Homo sapiens: one gene and its partners. The protein of the gene in region 1 purifies or fractionates together with the protein of each later gene. This does not show direct contact. Each region holds a gene or a part of one and is shown in the gene's direction. Other genes may lie near its edges.

Evidence for each region.
Region 2: the proteins of PKD1 (region 1) and JADE1 purify together in Homo sapiens (affinity purification with western blotting; one study listed by BioGRID). This does not show direct contact.
Region 3: the proteins of PKD1 (region 1) and ATP1A1 fractionate together in Homo sapiens (co-fractionation; one study listed by BioGRID). This does not show direct contact.
Region 4: the proteins of PKD1 (region 1) and ANXA10 purify together in Homo sapiens (affinity purification with western blotting; one study listed by BioGRID). This does not show direct contact.
Region 5: the proteins of PKD1 (region 1) and PRKCZ purify together in Homo sapiens (co-immunoprecipitation; one large-scale study listed by IntAct). This does not show direct contact.
Region 6: the proteins of PKD1 (region 1) and PTPRS purify together in Homo sapiens (affinity purification with western blotting, with the first as the bait; one study listed by BioGRID). This does not show direct contact.

The regions. Positions count from the first base shown.
Region 1 is NC_000016.10:2,111,899-2,115,398, reverse strand, and holds part of PKD1 (polycystin-1 isoform 1 precursor), read left to right. Parts: coding exon 1-21; intron 22-248; coding exon of another isoform or gene 249-364; intron 365-473; coding exon 474-1,229; intron 1,230-2,106; coding exon 2,107-2,238; exon of another isoform or gene 2,239-2,242; intron 2,243-2,333; coding exon of another isoform or gene 2,334-2,358; intron 2,359-2,435; coding exon 2,436-2,611; intron 2,612-2,925; coding exon 2,926-3,059; intron 3,060-3,500. UniProt on the Homo sapiens protein: Component of a heteromeric calcium-permeable ion channel formed by PKD1 and PKD2 that is activated by interaction between PKD1 and a Wnt family member, such as WNT3A and WNT9B. Both PKD1 and PKD2 are required for channel activity.
Region 2 is NC_000004.12:128,847,700-128,851,199, forward strand, and holds part of JADE1 (protein Jade-1), read left to right. Parts: intron 1-1,280; coding exon 1,281-1,468; intron 1,469-3,500.
Region 3 is NC_000001.11:116,379,744-116,383,243, forward strand, and holds part of ATP1A1 (sodium/potassium-transporting ATPase subunit alpha-1), read left to right. Parts: intron 1-3,500. UniProt on the Homo sapiens protein: This is the catalytic component of the active enzyme, which catalyzes the hydrolysis of ATP coupled with the exchange of sodium and potassium ions across the plasma membrane.
Region 4 is NC_000004.12:168,091,114-168,095,336, forward strand, and holds the start of ANXA10 (annexin A10), read left to right. Parts: upstream 1-1,423; 5' UTR 1,424-1,587; coding exon 1,588-1,605; intron 1,606-1,623; exon of another isoform or gene 1,624-4,223.
Region 5 is NC_000001.11:2,165,411-2,168,910, forward strand, and holds part of PRKCZ (protein kinase C zeta type), read left to right. Parts: intron 1-2,880; coding exon of another isoform or gene 2,881-3,157; exon of another isoform or gene 3,158-3,500. UniProt on the Homo sapiens protein: Calcium- and diacylglycerol-independent serine/threonine-protein kinase that functions in phosphatidylinositol 3-kinase (PI3K) pathway and mitogen-activated protein (MAP) kinase cascade, and is involved in NF-kappa-B activation, mitogenic signaling, cell proliferation, cell polarity, inflammatory response and maintenance of long-term potentiation (LTP).
Region 6 is NC_000019.10:5,218,813-5,222,312, reverse strand, and holds part of PTPRS (receptor-type tyrosine-protein phosphatase S isoform 1 precursor), read left to right. Parts: intron 1-92; coding exon 93-190; intron 191-1,059; coding exon 1,060-1,313; intron 1,314-1,959; coding exon 1,960-2,053; intron 2,054-2,158; coding exon 2,159-2,374; intron 2,375-2,845; coding exon 2,846-3,003; intron 3,004-3,500. UniProt on the Homo sapiens protein: Cell surface receptor that binds to glycosaminoglycans, including chondroitin sulfate proteoglycans and heparan sulfate proteoglycan.

The DNA.
Region 1 (3,500 bases):
GGGCCCCCCGCGCAGTACTCGGTGTGTGGCCCTGACCTGGGTCTGTTCCCTGCATCTCCTCAGGCCACCTTCCTGTCTGCTGCCCAGGGTCTGGGTCTGTGCACCAGACACACCCAGCCTGCAGGCCCCTCCCACGTCCTTGCCACCTCTGACCTCCGACCTCTGCAGTGCCCTCGGCCCTCTCCCAGTGGGAGAAGCTCTCGCCTGGGCCCTTGGCACGAGCTGTGCCTCCTCTTCCTCTCTCCCAGCACAGCTGCTCCTTCCTGTCTGCCAGGTCTTGGCCTGTGTCCTCTCCCCGTGTGTCCCCCGGTCTGCAACTGTCCTGCCTGTCCTTGTCACGAGCACTGTGGGGAGGCTCCTTGAGGTGTGGCTGACGAAGCGGGGAGCCCTGCGTGTCCACCCTCATCCGTCGTGCGGGGGTCCACGGGCCATGACCGTGAGGACGTGATGCAGCCCTGCCTCCCTCTCCACAGGTCACCCTCCACGGCCAGGATGTCCTCATGCTCCCTGGTGACCTCGTTGGCTTGCAGCACGACGCTGGCCCTGGCGCCCTCCTGCACTGCTCGCCGGCTCCCGGCCACCCTGGTCCCCGGGCCCCGTACCTCTCCGCCAACGCCTCGTCATGGCTGCCCCACTTGCCAGCCCAGCTGGAGGGCACTTGGGCCTGCCCTGCCTGTGCCCTGCGGCTGCTTGCAGCCACGGAACAGCTCACCGTGCTGCTGGGCTTGAGGCCCAACCCTGGACTGCGGCTGCCTGGGCGCTATGAGGTCCGGGCAGAGGTGGGCAATGGCGTGTCCAGGCACAACCTCTCCTGCAGCTTTGACGTGGTCTCCCCAGTGGCTGGGCTGCGGGTCATCTACCCTGCCCCCCGCGACGGCCGCCTCTACGTGCCCACCAACGGCTCAGCCTTGGTGCTCCAGGTGGACTCTGGTGCCAACGCCACGGCCACGGCTCGCTGGCCTGGGGGCAGTGTCAGCGCCCGCTTTGAGAATGTCTGCCCTGCCCTGGTGGCCACCTTCGTGCCCGGCTGCCCCTGGGAGACCAACGATACCCTGTTCTCAGTGGTAGCACTGCCGTGGCTCAGTGAGGGGGAGCACGTGGTGGACGTGGTGGTGGAAAACAGCGCCAGCCGGGCCAACCTCAGCCTGCGGGTGACGGCGGAGGAGCCCATCTGTGGCCTCCGCGCCACGCCCAGCCCCGAGGCCCGTGTACTGCAGGGAGTCCTAGTGGTGAGTATGGCCGAGGCTCCACCACCAGCCCCCAGGCAGGTGCCTGCAGACAGGGTGCTCACACAGGGCGTGAGGCCTGGCTTCCCAGTGAGGGCAGCAGCCCAGTTACTGGGGACGTCGGCCCCGGGCAGGTCCTGCTGGCTGGCTCCTCGGGCTACCTGGTGGGCTTTAAATTCCTGGAAAGTCACGGCTCTGACAGTGGCTCCGCTAACTCATTCCACTGTCTCATTTCACAAAATGAATTTAAAACTCTGCTCCCTGACCTCACACGAGCCCCCGTGAGTCTCTCACGCCCTCTGCTGTGTTCTCGCCTGGCTAAAGCGAGTGGCTTTTGAGGTGGAGTCTGAACCCCTGATGGGAAACTGCGGGCTGCCCGCGGTGCCACCATGCTGGGTACATGGGGGACAGGGCTGTCTCCATCTTGCGGGTACCTGCCTCTTCACCAGGGGCCTTGGGAGGGGCCATCAGAAATGGCGTGACCTGTGCAGCCTGTCCTGGGTTCTGTAAGCCAGTGTAGGTGCCTCCCCTCACTGCTCCGAGCTCTCTGGGTGAGGAGCTGGGGCAAGAGCGCCGGGAGGGTCTGAGAAGACTCAGAGAGAGGTGGACTCTTTGTAGCTGGTACTAGGTTTGCTTTACAGATGGGGAAACTGAGGCACAGAGAGGTTGAGGCATTAGTAGTACTACATGGCTGGCTGGAGAGCCGGACAGTGAGTGTCCCAGCCCGGGCTTGGCTCCCATGGCATGCAGAGCCCCGGGCACCTCCTCTCCTCTGTGCCCCGCGTGGGACTCTCCAGCCCGACGGGAGGTGTGTCCAGGAGGCGACAGGCTAAGGGCAGAGTCCTCCACAGAGCCCAGGCTGACACCATTCCCCCCGCAGAGGTACAGCCCCGTGGTGGAGGCCGGCTCGGACATGGTCTTCCGGTGGACCATCAACGACAAGCAGTCCCTGACCTTCCAGAACGTGGTCTTCAATGTCATTTATCAGAGCGCGGCGGTCTTCAAGCTCTCAGTAGGTGGGCGGGGGTGGGGAGGGGAGGGGATGGGGCGGGGCAGGGCGGGGGCGGGCTCCACCTTCACCTCTGCCTTCTGCTCTGCTTCATGCTGCCCGAGGACGCTGCCATGGCTGTGGGTGAGTGGAGGGAGGGACGCCAATCAGGGCCAGGCCTCTCACCTGCCACCTGGGCTCACTGACGCCTGTCCCTGCAGCTGACGGCCTCCAACCACGTGAGCAACGTCACCGTGAACTACAACGTAACCGTGGAGCGGATGAACAGGATGCAGGGTCTGCAGGTCTCCACAGTGCCGGCCGTGCTGTCCCCCAATGCCACGCTAGCACTGACGGCGGGCGTGCTGGTGGACTCGGCCGTGGAGGTGGCCTTCCTGTGAGTGACTCGGGGGCCGGTTTGGGGTGGGCACCAGGCTCTTGTCCCAGCCCCAGCCTCAGCCGAGGGACCCCCACATCACGGGGTTGCTTTTCTGAGCCTCGGTTTCCCTGTCTGTTGGGAGGTAACTGGGTGCACAGGAGCCCTGAGGCTGCACGGGAGCCGGGAGAGGCCTCAGCACAGCCGGGTGGGCCCTGAATGGAGGCCCGGGGCGTGACTGCAGAGTGGAGCCTCGGCTGGGTCCCAAGCACCCCCTGCCCCGCCACCGCCCACCCCTGTCCCGGTTCACTCACTGCGTCCCACCGCCCCGGCAGGTGGACCTTTGGGGATGGGGAGCAGGCCCTCCACCAGTTCCAGCCTCCGTACAACGAGTCCTTCCCGGTTCCAGACCCCTCGGTGGCCCAGGTGCTGGTGGAGCACAATGTCATGCACACCTACGCTGCCCCAGGTGAGGGATGAGGGGGTGAGGGGGCCACTGCCTTTCAGGCTCTGAGCACGGGGTCCCCCCAGCTCCCCAGTCAAGCTGCCCCCCTTCCTCCCCAACAGCCCTCACTGTGACCTCACCTGGGCTGATGGCTTAGGCCCCTACTGGGGTGAGGGAGGGGCCAGGCGTGGGGGGAGTGGACAGGGAAGCTGGGCCCCTGAACTGCGCCCCCCGCCCTCCCCGGGCCTGGCTCTTGCTGCTCTGCTGCCCCGAGTGCAGCTGCACTTGGAGGCGGTGCCGTCCTCGCCAGGCAGCCCTCAGTGCTGCTACACCTGTGCTCCGTCCCGCACGTGGCTTGGGAGCCTGGGACCCTTAAGGCTGGGCCGCAGGTGCAGCCGTTCACCCCGGGCTCCTCAGGCGGGGGGCTTCTGCCGAGCGGGTGGGGAGCAGGTGGGGGTGCCGCGG
Region 2 (3,500 bases), on another chromosome or scaffold:
AAGCTGTATTAAAGTTGGAGCCCTGAGCAAGTTGGATCCCTGCTCTTGGCTGAGTAGGAGAAATAAATCCCTTCAGTTTGTCCATGTCAGTGTCACGTAGATAAAATCACTCCCGTAATATAAGGGTGATGAAGGTACTCTGACAGACTCTGGGCAGCCTGTTGACAGTAATTTAAACTGTGGAAATGCATATGTGGAAGGACTTTGTTGAGGCCTGGGGTCTGTGATTAGGAAGATGGCCTTTTTTTGGTTCCAAGTCGGGAGTGATTTGCTCTTGCACATGCAGTCTTATTTTGAGTGGGGTGAGTTGGAAGGCACCACTCCAGGTGTTAAAGGTCGGGAGAGATTGTGTGGCAGTACCAGGAGGAGAAACTTGTGCTTTTGTTCCTGGGATCATGGGTATATGTTGGGAGAGTCAGTCCCCTTCTTGGCTGGGACTCTGTTTCTTAGATTTTTTGGTAATGGCCGGGGTCTTATTTCCTTTTTTTTGTTTGCGTTTGAGACAGTCTCACTCTGTTGCCCAGGCTGGAGTGCAGTGGTGCAATCTTGGCTCACTACAACCTCCGCCTCCTGGGTTCAAGCAATTCTCCTGCCCCAGCCTCCCGAGTAGCTGGGGTTACAGGCGTGTGCCATCATACCTGGCTAATTTCTGTATTTTTAGTAGAGATGGGGTTTCACTGTGTTGGCCAGGCTGGTCTCAAACTCCTGACCTCAAATGATCCGCCTGCCTCGGCCTCCCAAAGTGCTGGGATTACAGGCTTGGGCCACCTTGCCCCAGCCCAAGGCCTGATTTTCTTTTCCCTCTCTCCCTCTTTTTTTTTGTGAGGTGTGAGGGTTGGCGGGTTTCTCCCTCTGGTTCTCAGAGTCTGCTGCGCCTGCCCTGCCTGTGTGGTGCCCTGGTTCTAATGGCCTCCAGCAGGGATGGGCAGGTCTGGTTAAGGGAAAGTGATTTAATGACTAACTCTTGAAATGTATGGGTCAGTGTGTTTTGGTGTTGGCTGCAGGCCAGAGTGGTCAGAGGTGGTGGGCAGGGCACAGCAGGGTCCCGGGAAGCAGATTTTGAAGGCTTCTACAGTGTTTTCATTTGTATCTATTGCCTGTTAGCAGGCTTTAACAACTTCTAGTTAAGGTTTTATTAGCAGTGACATTCAGGTTTTCAGCCTCTGGTGATGACCTGGGGCTCTAAGGGTTGGAAGAGGAAGACATTTGGGGCCTTGTGGCACACTTCATTGTCTGTGGCTGAAAGGGTAACCTGGCTGCCTTGTTTTTTTATTATCCAGGGTTGTGTCTGAAGAGAAATCCCTCATGTTCATCAGGCCCAAGAAGTACATCGTGTCATCAGGCTCTGAGCCTCCCGAGTTGGGCTATGTGGACATCCGGACGCTGGCTGACAGCGTGTGTCGCTATGACCTCAATGACATGGATGCTGCATGGCTGGAACTGACCAATGAAGAATTTAAGGAGATGGGTGAGAGACCATGTATTCTATTATTTTATTAACCAATGATGAATAGAGACATTTTAGGCAGGTAGGTGAGTAGCAGAAAGCTCCTTATTGCCAGTTGCAGGCAGCTCCATCATAGCTTTAGTCAGTGAGAATCGCAGCCCTGCCTTAGATCTCAGCCTGTTTGGCTGTGTCAGATGTGCTGAGATGGTTTCAGAGTGGAAGCAAGGCTCCTCGGCTCAGGCACCAGGGATTCCCATCCCCGCTCTGATCTAACTCCCTCATTCACTTACCTTAAGGAAGCTGAAGTCCAGGGAAACGAAGTGACAAAAGGGCATGGCCCACAGTTACCTGCTCTAGTGTTTTTTTCCTGTGATGCCATTCGGATTCCTTCTTTAGCCGTGGTTTGCTGCTTCTCTAAATGAACACTCTTCCAGGCATGCTCCCCATTTCCAAGCACATCATGTGTGTTTTAACTTGAGCGATTTTCCTTATGTCATGCTGCAAACCTGGAGTTCTTTTTCCCTCCGTTTATCTCTGTCCTGGCTTTCCTTCAGTGAAGCCTGACATTAGCTGTGTGCCCAGCCCTTCTCCACCTCTTTTCTGCAAGCTCATTTTAGCGTATGTAGACGTTGGAGCATCTCATGGTGTTGAGACTGGGATGGCGTATAGGTCTCATCTCACATGCCAGTCCTGATTGCTAAGGGTTGCCTTGAGGGTCTTGATGAACAAGACAGTGGAGTCAAGTCTGGGCTCAGTGTGAAAAACTGTGAGGATTAATTAGCTTTTGTGCTGTAGGTACACGGTGGGGAGGTGGTGGCAAGGGCCATGTATTGTAATCTAGGACATAGTAAATAATCACAAGATCGGCCGGGCTTGTTGGCTCATGTCTGTAATCCCAGCACTTTGGGAAGCCAAGGTGGGCAGATCACCTGAGGTCAGGACTTCAAGACCAGCCTGGCAAACATGGTGAAACCCCGTCTCTACTAAAAATACAAAAATTAGCTAGGCGTCGTGGTGGGTATCTGTGGTCCCAGCCACTCAGGAGGCTGAGGCAGAAGAATCACTTGAGGTGATTCTTCTCAAGTCACTTGAGGGGGTGGAGGTTTCCTTGAGCCGGGATTGTGCCACTGCATTCCCACCTGGGCAACAGAGCCAGACTCCATCTCAAAAAAAAAAAAAAATCACAAGATTTTTGTCATGGTGGATTTCACAGCCTTGAAGGGCCAAGACCTTTTGCGTCTTTCCAGGGAACGTAGCATAGGGTGTGGCTTGCAGTAGATGCTTGTCCTGCCATTAGGCTCACCACCTGTTGAATGGGAGTGATAATGTAGACTGAGCTGAGCATGGTGTTGTCTTCTACTCGCTCAGTTACTCAAGTGTTTTTATAGACAAAATAGACTTCCTTCTTCTTGGTCCTGCTTTAGGTATTAATGGCCAAAACATTAGCAGGCCACAAGGTGGTTTTATGGCATGAGTTCAGGAGTTCTCAGAGATCTTTTGGAATTGAATACTAAATTTTAGCTTCACAGATGATACAGTTTCTGCTGTGTTGTAAGCACATTATAAAGACCAGTGTAATACACTTGACTGGAATCTAGGTGTCCTGTGTTAAGTCAGAGGACTCAGCCCAAAGACTCTTCGCATTTATGAATGGTTTAAATAATAAGAACTGGGCTAATCCATATTTGAAGATACTGTTGAATACATTGGCAAGATTAATTTTGTAATTTTATAACATAAACGGAACGCATGCTTAAATATGTTTGTCTTAGCTGTTATTGGTCTTTTTTTCTTTCTTTTTTGAGATGAAGTCTCGCTCTGTGGCCCATGCTGGAGTGCAGGGGTGCAATCTCGGCTGACTGCAACCTCTACCTCCTGAGTTCAAGCGATTCTCCTGCCCCAGCCTCCCAAGTAGCTGGGATTATTGGCACCTGCCACCATGCCTGGCTAATTTTTGTATTTTTAGTAGAGACAGGATTTCGCCGTATTGGCCAGGTTGGTCGTGAACTCCTGACCTCAAATGATCTACCTGCAAAGTACTGGGATTATAGGC
Region 3 (3,500 bases), on another chromosome or scaffold:
AGAATACTTTTACATACACAATTGTGTTGGATGATTTAATAATGTATCGACCAGGAAAATGAGAAAGCACCCCTCCCCCTTACCTTTTACATTGAAGGTAGCCCAGACTTGGCAGCCTCTAGGGAACCAGCAAGGTCAGAGTCCATCACACAACTTTCCTGCTAAAGTGGTATTTGCCAAATCATGTCCAGAGGTGTTGTTTCTACAATCTTCTTGGCAACTCCGAAATGGGCTGCATTTGGGGCACTTCCTTTTGCCATCCTTCTGGCCCTTCTTGCCCGTCAAAAGCTTTTGTCTGTGGGCTTTGGAAATAGTCCAGTTTTTAAGGTGTTTTATTTTTCAGAGTTAATGGTTTCTTGACTAATCAGACTATGAAAATGCCTTCTCTAGGTTCTTTAATAGTTATACCAAGTGTTATTCCCATTTTAGGAATGAAGAAACTAAGGCTGACAGGCAAAGGTCATGTAGCCAGCATGTGGCAACACTAGAATAAATTGGCAGACTCAACACCATTAGCAGACCTGTCTGGAGGGAATGGTGGGTCTTGAACTTTCAAGTACCCTCTAAACTTTTTCAGCAGGAATTTCAGAAGTCTCAAGAATTCTGAGCTCCCTGCTGGCCATGGGACATTGTGCTGATATGGTGGGAAAAATGCAGGTTGAGAAAGCCTTCGCATCCTGCCCTGTTGGAGGCTGGTGTTTGGGATGGGTATGAAGGCCTTTGGCGGTGGCTATAGCTTATGCAGACCTGAAGCAATATACCTCTGGGATGGAAGATCCTGCTTATTTTGGGATAATTTCTAAATCTGTCATATCTATCCCCAACCCTGTCCCCATTAAATGGCTAATTGCCAAAAAAGAGGAAGCAACATCTTCAGCTCTAGCAAGTCTCGGGGATGTCTCACTCATTGTGAGGACTGTGAGGATTCGGTATATATTTTTAAGTGAGTGAACCTTGTTACATGTTTTAACCTTGGTTCCTCCTGTCAAGAATTTTATCTTCTCATGTCTTGGGCACCTTTTCCCTCTACCCAGATCAAATAGCAAAATGCTTAGTTAATCTTTGAGAGGATAGAATCCATGGGAAGCACAGGATGAAATGATGACGCTGTGCTAAGCTGTGTCACCGTGGGTAAGCCCCTGCCCTTGCTGTGACTTTCCACTTCCTAAATTAGAATGGAAGGGGGAAAAAAAAAAACCATAACCCAACTTCATTTTTATGAGTGGCCCTTTAGAAAATAGTGTAATCCGTTGAGTTTCCATTGTACCTTTCCTCAGAGATGCTCAAAGGGGCGGGGGTGCCCTTACATGGAACATGATGAGAGTGAGGATTAATCACTCCCAGTCCTCTGGGAGGGGGGAAGTGACCTGAACTTTCTAATTGAAAAAGTAGGAAGTGTGTGCCCAATGCCCAGATGAGTGGGAAGATTACTGTAGTTGATTGAGGAAATGCCGTATTTATCATTCACCCTTCCCATGACCTTTGTTTTTCCCTAATGCCTTAAAAAATAATAAGGAAACATTGTCCTACCTGATTCTACCACTGTTCATCTCACGCAGTGTGCACTCCCTGACTCTGAATTTTGCAGCTTTGAGACTGAGGTAATTGAGACTGATAGGGATTTAAGGATATTTGGTTCCCACAAGAATAAGCTAATATTAAGTTATTATTTTACTTGTGGAGAAGAACTAAATTGTATAAGCTGCCTGGTTCTTCTAGACACACATTGCCTAGTGAAAAAATTAAAATTTTGAAGAAAAAGCAGTTTTACTTGTTAATACTTGCCATGTGTCTCACCCACAAATAGCCTCATTTAAAACTTTGCCTTACCTAGCATGAATGGATAAAGAAAAAGGAGAGTTATTAGGGAATCTAAATTCCCAACTAACTTTAGCACTGATAGTGGTGAAGCTATGGGCAAGACATTTATTTTGTAAGTGGGGGTAAAACTTTGGAACGTGTTCAAAGCCTAGCTGCTCTAGTAATCCTCTCTCCTCTTCTGGAGTGGAAGATATTGGAAGTCTGAGAATAAGCAAAGCATGCAGATTATGAAGCTGAGGGGTTATAACTATTTCATTTATTGAAATATATTTCAATGATATTCAACTTGCTCAGAGAGAATCCGTGAGCTGTATTTTAAAAATCAATACAGGCTGGGCACGGTGGCTCACGCCTGTAATCCCAGCACTTTGGGAGGCCGAGGTGGGTGGATCATGAGGTAAGGAGTTCAAGACCAGCCTGGCCAAGATGGTGAAACCCCGTCTCTACTAAAAATACAAAAATTAGCCAGGCGTGGTGGCGAGCGCCTATAATCCCAGCTACTCAGGAGGCTGAAGCAGGGAATTGCTTGAACCCTTGGGCGGAGGTTGCAGTGAGCTTAGATTGCGCCACTGCACTCCAGCCTGGGCGACAGAGTGAGACTCCATCCCCAAAAAAAAGAAAATTAATACAAAGTGGTCACATAAATCTTTTAGAGATCCTTAGTCAATGTCTTTAAAATGTTTTTTAAGTGTTGTGCTTTCTCATTAAAGGTATGATATACCTTTAATTAAAGCTAAAGATATACCACTTTAGCTGTGGTTCCTTTCTGGTAGATGACCTGCCTTTTCCTTTTTGTTTTATTTGTCCACTTGTATGTGTTACTATTTTTCATTTAAACTCTGGCACCAAGAGCTGTACCGAAAGAGGCACCAACAAATGTGGTTGCTCCATAATGGAGAGAATGTCAAGAATGTTGACTATCTTTAGACCTGCTTCATTAATAGATAAGATAGAAACTAAAGAACCCACCCAGTTGGAAGAAGTTATTAGTCAAGTAGTGCTGCACACGTGACCACAGAAGTTAAAAAGGTAAATAATGTGTCTCTACATGTGGCCCACTCCAGTGAATTTGGAGAAGGATTTCTCCTTGGAGTCTTAAGAGGATATTTTTAAATTTAAGTGAACAATGTATTTTATTTGCAACTATTAGTTATGACTGAAACACACATAATACGTTTTGATTTTCTTTTTTCATTTCAGCACAGTGAAATTATAATCTGGACACGAGTTCCTAATTATTGCTTTAGTAGCTGGTAATGCACTTAGGAAAGTTAGAAATGAGTAAAGGAGAACCACAAAATAATAGTAATAGCACCATATGTCATGCATTTTAAGAAAATTGCTAATGTCTACTTTTTGGCCTTAAGTTGTAGTTGTGGGAGGCTGCTTCAGGGGGAGGTGTCTGGAACAAGGGGCTCTTCTGCTCCGCTAAGCTTTGGAGCACCAAGTTCAGGCTTTGTGTAGATAAGCTCAAGGATTTTTCAACAGGGGTGGGGGAGTGGAACAATCTAAATTTAAACTATAGAATCAACATTTTCTTTAAAAATTGTTCCAGTTTTCAAGAGGCGTAGGTGGATCCTGTGAATTATGTGATAATGCACACGCTTTTCCTACATCCTGCTTATGTCAAAACATTTCCAGAGACTTTCATTTTGGAGGTTTTATTTTCAGGCTACAGA
Region 4 (4,223 bases), on another chromosome or scaffold:
TCTATTGTTTCTAATTAAAAAACAATTTTAGTTGAAAATTCTTCTTTTGTTTCTAATTCTGAATCCTATAGTTTTAATAAGTATATCTATTATTTTATAATTGCTATATGCTGTCTACATATAGCAATTATACAATATAAATTATACAATTATAGCAATTATACAATATAAATTATACAATTTTATAATTGCTATATGCTGTCTACATAGCAAAAACACAAGACCCTGATTCATACACAGACACATACACATACATAGTAGGACCTACTAGATTTTAATGTTTTTGAGCCAAGCAGCATGGTTCCATATATCTCTCATAGTACCAGGTATACTGGTAAGGTAATCAGATAATATTATAAATTGAATGCTGAAGAATATATATATATAGTTGCTCATTATATATATATATATTTGTGTTTGTGTGTGTGTGTGTGTGTGTATTACATAAATACATACTGCTTCATGGCTTTTACTCATATTTTAACATCAGAATTATTTTGGGTAGTTCTAGACCTATGGATGCTGATCAGTTGACACTTGTCTTGTTAGTATTTGGTTCTTTCAATAAAGGATTATTTGCTCCTAATTCTTATTCAAAGTATTTTAAAATTTTTATAAATGAACACTATATTGTTCAATAAATAGCAAGTAGCAGTAAAATAATATAATACAGATTCATTTTGTTATTTTTGGAATCATATATGAATGTATCTAGATAGTTTCCAACACTATATTGAACTTTACAGGTTTTTCTAAAATTTATTTCCTTAAAATGCAATAGTTAATATTAAAATTACATATATATAAATATAGGAAAATTAAGTGCAAAAATGATGGTGAATATATTTCTCCAAAGACTTTTATTGGTGGATAATGAATTCTTTTCTAAATATATTTAAAATAATTTTTTTTTAATTTGTGTATTTTTAGTAGAGACGGGGTTTCGCCATGTTGGGCAGCCTGGTCTCGAATTCCTGACCTCAAGTGATCTGCCTGCCTTAGCCTCCCAAAGTGCTGGGATTAGAGGCATGAGCCACCAGGCCCAGCCCCTAAATACATTATTTTTTAATATAAGAGCAGATAAACAGTAGTTGAAATATTCTTTTAAAATTGTATGGATACACATAGAACCTAGCAATTTAAGATAGGAAACTAGGGCTGGAGCACCTGAAAGAGTTTCCATGTTAACAACAATTAAGCAGAAAATAAATGATTAACTTTATGGGTAATCAACTTAGCTTTCCATAAGTCATCAGCTTTTTCAAAAGATTACATTTCTTTCATTAGTTGGCTACTTTATGTGTCTTAAATCAACATACAACTGGGGATTAGGTTAATGGTTCTACTTATTTTGTGCAATAATTCTGCCTACTCACCTATGACTGATAACTAAGTATAAATACAGTATCTCAAGTCATGCTGTATCCAGATTTGCTTTTACATTTTCTTGCCTGAGTCTGAGGTGAACAGTGAACATATTTACATTTGATTTAACAGTGAACCTTAATTCTTTCTGGCTTCACAGTGAAACAAGTTTATGCAATCGATCAAATATTTTCATCCCTGAGGTTAACAATTACCATCAAAATGTTTTGTGGAGACTATGTGAGTATAATGCTTATTTCTGTAAAGCTTTTCACTCTTTTGAAACTTGATTTATAAAATTTCATTTGTGTTTTTTGACGTTTTTAACAGAAAATGTTGTTCTAATTTGTTTTTATTCTTACTACTTTCTTACTATTTTATGCCCATTTTTTGAAAGAAACATTTATAGAATATTTAAATTTTATTTCTGGGATTATTAAACATTACTATGATAACAAGATTTTTTTAATGCAATTATTTGCTATGCTTCTGAAGCAAATAAAGAAAACTGAAGATTAAAGATTTGGATTTGAGCATACCTAAGAATCCATTTAATTAGTGGGTCTTCAATATAACTATTAAACAGAGTTAATATTATGAAATCTTAAATCCATGCTAATTTTGAAACAACGTATTATCCCACAGAGGCAAGTTACTTTCATATGTAATTTGATTCAGAATTCTAACTGAAGTTATCATAAGATTTTTTATCTCGATATTTACTTCTATCTATAAAAAATTAAAATAATTTTGACTATTAATTTTATTTTAAATCCATGCTTTCTGTAAAAGATAGCTTATTTTTGAATAATTTTCTGTTGAATAGAAGCAATGTATAACAAGATTTAGTCTTTTTTTTGGCCTTGTCTGAATCATTTTAGTCCAACTGCTCTAATAGTCATTCACTTTTTAAAAAGCCAACATGAACATTAAGTTGTCTGAATATGCTTTATATGAAAAGGTCTCCATTTCACATGGTCTTGAAAATTATATACAAATGTGAATTTATGCCTTGTGGTCTTAGAAATTATATACAAGTATATGTGTGTTAATGATGATTCTTTACAAATCTATACTATAAAAAAACTTTCAGGAGACTGAGGCAAGAGAATGGCGTGAACCCGGGAGGCGGAGCTTGCAGTGAGCCGAGATCGCGCCACTGCACTCCAGCCTGGGCGACAGAGCGAGACTCCATCTCAAAAAACAAAAAACAACTTTCTGGGAACTTTTATGCAAAAAAATTATAACATAATTATTTTGTTAAACTTTGGCACACAAAACATTGTTTACTCATACAAAGTAATCAATGCAGGAAAATTTTACTTATATATTGTGTTTCTTAAGATAAATACTGAATTAGGACTTAAAAGGCAGCTATTTTCCATCACTGTTAGTTTAACAATCTTAATTTCATCTTAAGATTTCAAGATCTCATTTTGCAGTTGAAAGTTACCATTATTGTTTTATTAATTGTAAGGTGGTTATATTTCACTACAGAGAAAAAAAGGTATCAAGTAATTAGGCCAGCATGGTAAATGATTAAATTTGCAAATGCCTATTGTTTTCTCTCTCTGTTCATTTGAGTATAGTTATTTGGGAGTAATTACTATTATATTCTATGCATTGTGTGGTCTAATGTTACTATTTATATGCCCATTTTTCAAAAGAAACATATTTTATAGAATATTTAAATTATATTTCTGGGATTATTAAACATTACCAGGCTAACAAGATTTTTTTTAAATGCAATTATTTGCTATGCTTCTGAAGCAAATAAAGAAAACTGAAGATTAAAGATTTGGATTTGAGCATACCTAAGAATCCATTTTAAGTACTTTTGATTAGCTATTTTAGAGATGAATGTTATGTTTTATGTATAATCTCAGCAAGCCTGGATGGTAAAATGGTTTTACATAATCAATATCAGTATAGTTTAAAGTAATTTTCTATCTTAAGGTATATGACCCCAGTGGTCAGAATTTAGTGCTAAAAAGGCCAATATTTGAGGCCAAGCTTATCTCTTTAATCGGATGTTCTCAAGCAAGAGACTGGCTCTTCTGTTGACAAGTAATTTCTTATTTTATAATGTGGGTAGTAATTGACTGAGTTGTTTGTTAAAGATATGTCCCTAGATCCTCCTTATTTAGCAGTCCTGATGCAGTATATATAACATCTGAACTTATACACTTGATATAAAAGGGTTACCATTTTTGAGAACCACAGAGATAGGTAGTTCATTACTCTCAAAGTATAGAAAATTTAAATATACTTCAAGCAAGAGACAAGAATCATGGAAAAATGGTTACATTTCTGTAGGAGATAAACATACATAATATGTTAAAATTATTTTCTATATTTCTGGAGTTAGGCGGGCCCCAGTGATTAAGGTAGTTTAAGTGTGCTTGTTACATTAAGAAGGAAATTTATCTTTGGTGCACTAGTGTATTTTACTTATGTGCTTGACTGTAAGACCATCTTTCAAAAGCAAGGTTTAATTAAGAGATTATTGCAAGCCTGAGTTTTGATATATTAGTCAGATATAAATCACATCATAGGAAGATATTATTATAATATTATAATAGCTCTCTTAGAATGGAGGAAATTTTACTATACAGTGTACTTGCCCAAGTCAGGATCTAAACCCAGGTATCTCTACATCCCTAGAGCTCAAATTCTTTTTATTAATATATAATGTCTCTTTAGAATACACCTGCCTCTTTAGAATACAATTTTCTTGTAAAAATTGTTCGCTGATTTTGTCCTGTTTTGTCATCAGCTGATCCCCCTTGTTCATACAGTAGCATCTTATTTACTATAGATTCATTTCTTAGATGATACCCTTCCTTTTGACCTCTAAT
Region 5 (3,500 bases), on another chromosome or scaffold:
CCCCTAACCTGTCTGTGCCTCGGCTTCCCCATCTGTAAAATGGCGAGAGCTGAACTTACTTCCTGGTGATGGGGTCAAGTGCGTTAACACAGAGGGACTTGGAGACTGACGCTTACTGAGGGCCACACCAGCGGTCAGCAAAGGTTGTCTTAAAGGGTCAGGCAGTAAATATTTCCACCTTTGTGGGCCATGCGGCCTCTGTGGCAACTATGCGTTCTAAAACAGAAGCAGCCTTAGACACTGCGTGAAGGGACGCGTGTGGCCGTGTTCCACCAGAACTTTCTGTACACACATGGTGGTGGCCCGCCCGGACCCATCTGGTTAATTCTTGACTCTCAGGGCAGCGTCTCCTGTGCCTCCAGGAGAGGGCTGTGGTTCCTCCCTCTGAGCCGGGCACCTTGCATTCCTGGAAGGGGTGGGGGGAGTGGCGAGGAGGGGGCGGCACCAAGGACAGGGCCCACCTCCTAGGAGGTTTTGTGAGCTTCCCTCAGCCCCCGGCCGCCCCCTAGGAGGTTTCGTGAGCTTCCAGCATCCCCCTGCGGCCACTGTCCCTCCATTTCCCATGTCTGTTGGATGGTGCCGGTTCCAGGGCAGGGTCAGGGACTGGATCCGGCTGCGGTCTGCGTCTCGCCTGGTTCCTGAGAGCTGCACTTTGTCTTTGGTTGTTGATGAATCCATTTTTGCTGGCGTTCTTCACGTTTGTGTATTTGATTAAGTATCATGGACAGGCATGTGCAGTGGCTCACACCTGTAATCCCAGCCCTTTGGGAGGCTGAGGCCGGAGGATCACTTGAGGCCAGGGGTTCAAGACCAGCCTGGGAAATATCTCGAGACCCTTTCTCTACAAAAAATTTAAAAATTAGCTGGCGGTGGTGGTGCAAGCATGTGGTCCCAGCTCCTCGGGAGGCTGAAGCCGGAGGATTGCCTGAGCCTGGGAGGTCGAGGCTGCAGTGAGCCATGATCACACCACTGCACTCCAGCCTGAGTGACAGAGTGAGATCTTGTCTCAGAAAAACAGCCCCGAGGGCACGTGTCTCATGACTCCCGCCTCCCGCCTCCCATCTGGGCTCTGCTTGCTCCTCTCCCCTTGCAAACATGAGAGGAGCGTTAATGCCAGGACAGGGAGCAGGGAGGGGCATCCCCAGCGCCTCCAGGCCACAACATGGCGAGTGTGGCTACCAGGACACGGAGGGGCAGCCTCAGCCCCCTCCCCCAGGCCACGACATGGCGAGTGTGGCTACCAGGACACGGAGGGGCAGCCTCAGCCCCCCCCAGGCCACGACATGGCGAGTGTGGCTACCAGGACATGGAGGGGCACCTTCAGCCCCCCACCCCCACCCCCAGGCTGTGCTTCCCAGCATCCCTTGGGGTCAGGACTGTGTGTGTCACTGAGGGGCTACGGGTGAAGCCACACACGCCCCTGGCCTGGCCTTGCGCCCCTGCCTGAGAGCCTCTATGCAGGACAGCGCCTGTGGGGCACCCAAGTGGGCCGAGCCCATGTGGATTACAGGTGCACACCACCAGCGTGAGGAGAGGAGTGGGCTCGGAGCATGCTCAGCCATGGTCCCAGGCATCTTGTCAGCAGCCAGCTCAGCTTGTGTCACGCAGAGTCGCCTTAGAGTGAATTGACACCAGATTGTCCTGGTGGGTTTTTGCTCTGAAGAAATGTCAAAAGTAGCATTAAGGTTTTTCTGTAGACAAAAAAACCCCACCATCATTGCAGCTTGAGCAGTTGCAAATTAAATAAATTCCTTCCTCAGCAAGCTGCCTGGGTCCTAGGCCTTGGGCAGAGAGAACTGGCTTTCAGCACAGTTCCCGTGATTGGCTTTTCTCTGGAGAAGAAGGGGAAGCGGCCTCCGCCTCTACCTCTCTAAGTGTTTAAATGTCCCCCAAATTCTCTCAGCCTCCTGAGGCATTGTATTGATGCTTTTCTCTAGAATTCATGTATTTCTTTATTTTCTCTGGAAATGGCATTGGCTTTGTCCCCGTCCTATGGGCCGTGATAGCTTAAAGTTAGGATGAACCCACAGAGGCCGTGGAGGCCCTTCCCAGGCGCCGCAGCAGCACTGTTGGGGTGAACGTGGCTCCTCTCGGGGGGACAGGTGGAAGGGACCAGCACCCATTGGGGCGTGTAACTCCTGGTGGCAAAAAATGTGCGGTGAAGTCACCCTAAGGGTTTTTGTGGTTTTTTGTATTTTTATTTTATTCTTTGAGACAGAGTCTTGCTCTGTCGCCCAGGCTGGAGTGCAGTGGCGCAATCTCAGCTCACTGCAGCCTGTGCCTCCTGGGTTCAGGCGATTCTCCTGCCCTCAGCCTCCCGAGTAGCTGAGATTACAGGTGCACACCACCAGCCCTGGGTCATTTTTGTATCTTTAGTAGAGATGAGGTTTCACCATGTTGGCCAGGATGGTCTCGAACTCCTGACCTCAGGTGATCTGCTTGCCTTGGCCTCCCAGAATGCTGGGATTACAGGCCTCGTGAGCCACCACGCCCAGGCACTCTAAGGGTTTTGAATAAATTCTTTCTTAACGTTTTCTGACCGACTCTTAGGTCGTGGGTGTCCTCCAGGGGTTGGAGGCCTTCATGGAGCTTCGTTCCGTGGGGTTGACGTTACTGAACGAGTCCCTCCACGGGTGCACTGAGGACGTTCCTGCACATCGAGGGCACCCTCAGAGCTGCTCTTTCTGTCATTGCTATTTTGTTTATACCGGGGATTGGCAAACTTTTTCTTGAAGGGCCCAAGAGTAGACATTTTTGGCTTTGCGGCCACAGGGTCTCTGTTAGCAACTCCCTCTGCCACGGTGGCTGGAAAGCAGACATAGAAAATAGATGCACCAGTGAGCATAGCCTCGTTCCAATAAAACTTTATTTACAAAACAGGGAGCAGTGGACCAGCGAGTCCCCAAGGACAAGGGCCAGGTTACCAGAGAATTTCCAGGCACATCCGTTGGAGGCAGGGGAGACAACAAAAGCCGAGGAACGAGCCTTCCCCAGCCGCTCCCCAAAGGCACGGCTTATTCTTCAGGGTGCCCGACTGGCCACGTGGACGTCTCTCCAGCTCCTCACTTGGGGCCCAGGGCTCTTTCGATTTTTAGGAGTTTGTTTCCAATCAGAAACTTCACAGATGATTTGCAGCCAGTTCACCTGCCCTGTGTAAACTGGCCTCTGTCCTCTCTGGCTTAATTCTGGGAGCTTGTGGAGGGCAGGAGCAGGGACAGGTGCCTTGAGGCGTAACAGTGGCGGTGGTGTGGGAGCTTGCGTGGGATCGAAGGAAACGGGCAGAGTCACCACACGCTTCCCTCCTTCACTCCCCGCTCCACGAGGGGCAGCCAGGAGCAGCCACCAGTCGGAAGCAAATAAACAATTCAGGTGCCAGAGGAGCCGCTGACCTAAAAAAACCCGCCACAGGGTATTTCTGGGAGATTGTATGAGAATTTAATTTTGAAAATTGAGTCTCATGAAATGTAGGAAAAGATCTTATTAGGAAGAGAAACCATGTG
Region 6 (3,500 bases), on another chromosome or scaffold:
CGCCCCACCCCACCCCGCTTCACGCCACCCAGTGCCAGGCACTCATGGGGCCTCTCTTCTGCTCTCTCCCTGCTCGGCCGCCTCCCCGGCAGTCTCGCCCAAGAACTTCAAGGTGAAAATGATCATGAAGACATCAGTTCTGCTCAGCTGGGAGTTCCCTGACAACTACAACTCACCCACACCCTACAAGGTGCGACTGCCCAGCCAGCAGGCAGGCAGGCAGGCAGGGTCAGGGGTTGTAGTTCAGCAGGGCTTAAGGCTCAGTTTGGAGTTGGTGTGAAGTGAGGGATCAGGGCTCAGTCAGAGATGGGTCTCAGCTAGGATTGAGGCTTAGTCAATACTGGGAATCAGACTTGGGGCCCAGCCTAGGATTGGAGATCAGCTGGAACTGAGGTTCAGTCAATATTGGGGATCAATGTTGGGCTCAGCCTTGGATTGTGGCTTAGCTGGGATTGAGGTTCAGTCTGGGATTAAGATTTAGTCCATATTGGAAATCAGAGTTGGGGCTCAGCCTTAGATCATGGCTTAGCTGGGACTGAGGCATAATCAGGATTGGGACTCAGAGTTGGTACTTAGCCTGAGGTCAGAGTTTAGTCTGGAGTTGGTGCCAAGTCTGGGATCGGGGGTCAGCCTGGGATTGAGGTTCAGTCTGAGATCAGGAATCAGTCTAGGATCAGGTCTCAGAGGTGGGTTTCCACCTAGGGTCAGCGCTCAGCTGGAATTCAGGATCAGTCTGGGTTCAGGGTTCAGTGGGATTGGGGCTCAGTCGGGACTGGGAATTCAGCATGGGATCAGGGCTCAGTCAAAGTGGGCTTCTACCTAGGATCAGGACTCAGCTGGAATTTAGGCACAGTCTGGGGTCAGGGTTCAGTGAGGTTGGGGCTCAGTCAGAGTTGGGGACTCAGCCTGGGATCAGGGATCAGTCAGTGTTAGATTTCTGCCTAGGGCAGGATTCAGTGGGATCAGGGCTCAGTCAGGGTGGGGGACTCATCCTGGAGCTGGGGCTCAGTCCATGGGCATGAGCCCACCAGGCCCTGCTGAGCTAGCCCTGGTCCGCAGATCCAGTACAATGGGCTCACACTGGATGTGGATGGCCGTACCACCAAGAAGCTCATCACGCACCTCAAGCCCCACACCTTCTACAACTTTGTGCTGACCAATCGCGGCAGCAGCCTGGGCGGCCTCCAGCAGACGGTCACCGCCTGGACTGCCTTCAACCTGCTCAACGGCAAGCCCAGCGTCGCCCCCAAGCCTGATGCTGACGGCTTCATCATGGTGTATCTTCCTGACGGCCAGAGCCCCGTGCCTGTCCAGTATGCTCACCCCCATGCTCCGGGTTCCTTGTCACCCCCATCAGCCTACTATATGGCTGGGGCAAGCCACGTGCCCTCTCTGTGCCTCAATTTCCTTGCCTATGAAACACAGACCCTATCAGCCCTAGTTCATGGGGTCATCCAAGATTCAATGCTTCTCATGGGTCATTGTCACTAAATGTGTCCTGTGTCTGCTCTTCTAGCATTTCCTGATACCCCATATGCCTGACCCTCCACTGGGTATTACTAGGGCCCCTGAAAGGATTTGGTTCTGGGCTTCCCAACTAGTGGGGAGGCAAAGCTGAGAGTCCCCAGTGGGGAGAGGAGCACTCTGCCTCAGAGGCAGAGAAGATTTAAGGGCTACAAGGTTATGTGGGCATTGAAGCTGGAGCTTTGAAGGATGTATAGGAGTTTAACAATGAGCATTACATGAAGTAAGCCTTCTACGCAGAAAGTACAGCATCATCCAAGGCCTGGAGGCCTGAGTCAGCAACTGTGGCGTTTGTGGATGGGGCATAGGGGAATAGGCTCATTGTATGAACAGAAGGGAAGACTCAGAGAAACGGCTTCCCCCGTTTGCCCCCATGAAGCATCCCTTGGTCATCCCTATCGACAGCCCCTCTGACTCTTTCCCATCTCCCTACAGGAGCTATTTCATTGTGATGGTGCCACTGCGCAAGTCTCGTGGAGGCCAATTCCTGACCCCGCTGGGTAGCCCAGAGGACATGGATCTGGAAGAGGTGAGGGCCTGGGGCCCAACCCGCAGGGCCCAGATGCATTCCAGTTTTCACGTGCTCTGTTGCTCCCAGCTGAGCTCTGAGCCACCCATGACTCTGTTCCCGCAGCTCATCCAGGACATCTCACGGCTACAGAGGCGCAGCCTGCGGCACTCGCGTCAGCTGGAGGTGCCCCGGCCCTATATTGCAGCTCGCTTCTCTGTGCTGCCACCCACGTTCCATCCCGGCGACCAGAAGCAGTATGGCGGCTTCGATAACCGGGGCCTGGAGCCCGGCCACCGCTATGTCCTCTTCGTGCTTGCCGTGCTTCAGAAGAGCGAGCCTGTAAGTCCTGAATGGTGTCCGCCCACATCCAGACACACCTCTGAATGAGGCAGACCCCATTCCCCAGGGCCCTGACCTCTGTGGTCAGTCACAGGCAGCTCCCTGTGGTCAGAGCTGGGCAGAGGGGAAGACTTGGGAGCGGAGGGATCCTGAAACGAAGGTTTCTTAGAGGAAGAGACCTTGGAGCTGGGGCGTTGAGGGGTGAGTAGGAGTTCAACAAAGAAAAAGCATCCCAGGATTTGCATGTGCAAAGGTCTGGAGGTACAGAAAGGAGAGTGGCTGGAGCAGAGAAGGGAATGGGGAGAGCAAAGATTGGCAGGGACCAGGTCACATAGGCCACCAGGGTCAAGGTTCTAGGAATATAGGAGGATCTAGAGCGGGGGAGAAACGTAGGTTCATGTTTGAGAAAGACCCATCTGGCCACTACAAGGAGGGTGGACACTGATGGAGACCCCCCTCCTTTCCCTGCAGACCTTTGCAGCCAGTCCCTTCTCAGACCCCTTCCAGCTGGATAACCCGGACCCCCAGCCCATCGTGGATGGCGAGGAGGGGCTTATCTGGGTGATCGGGCCTGTGCTGGCCGTGGTCTTCATAATCTGCATTGTCATTGCTATCCTGCTCTACAAGAAGTAAGCCCCATGTCCTCCCCGACTTGACTTGACAGCAGGGAGGGCTTCCTGGAAAAGGAGGGAGGAGTTGTCTCAGAGAATCATCACTAAAGGTCTCTGTTGTACACATGGGGAAACCGAAGTTCAGAGAGGTTAAGCCACTTGATCAAGGTCACACAGCATGGGAATGGCAGAGCTAGGGCTCAAAGCAGGCCAGTGGCTTGGCTTCTCCTCTTAACCCCTATCTTCAACTCAGCAAGATTTGGGGTAGAGGCTGCCTGTGTCCAGTTCAATGAGGATAGCAATTGTAGTGGCCCCATGGGGCACATCCCAGGGCTGAGATAAGCCTCCTTGTGGTGTCGATAGGCAGGGGGACAAACAGGAAATATGAGCACCATTTTCCAGAGGAGACCAAAGCTCACAGAGGTTAAGGAAGGCACTGAGAGTCACAGAACAAGCCCTTGATGGCCGGCACACCCTCACCTTTCTTCTTTTTTTCCCCCTTCTCACCTGTGTCT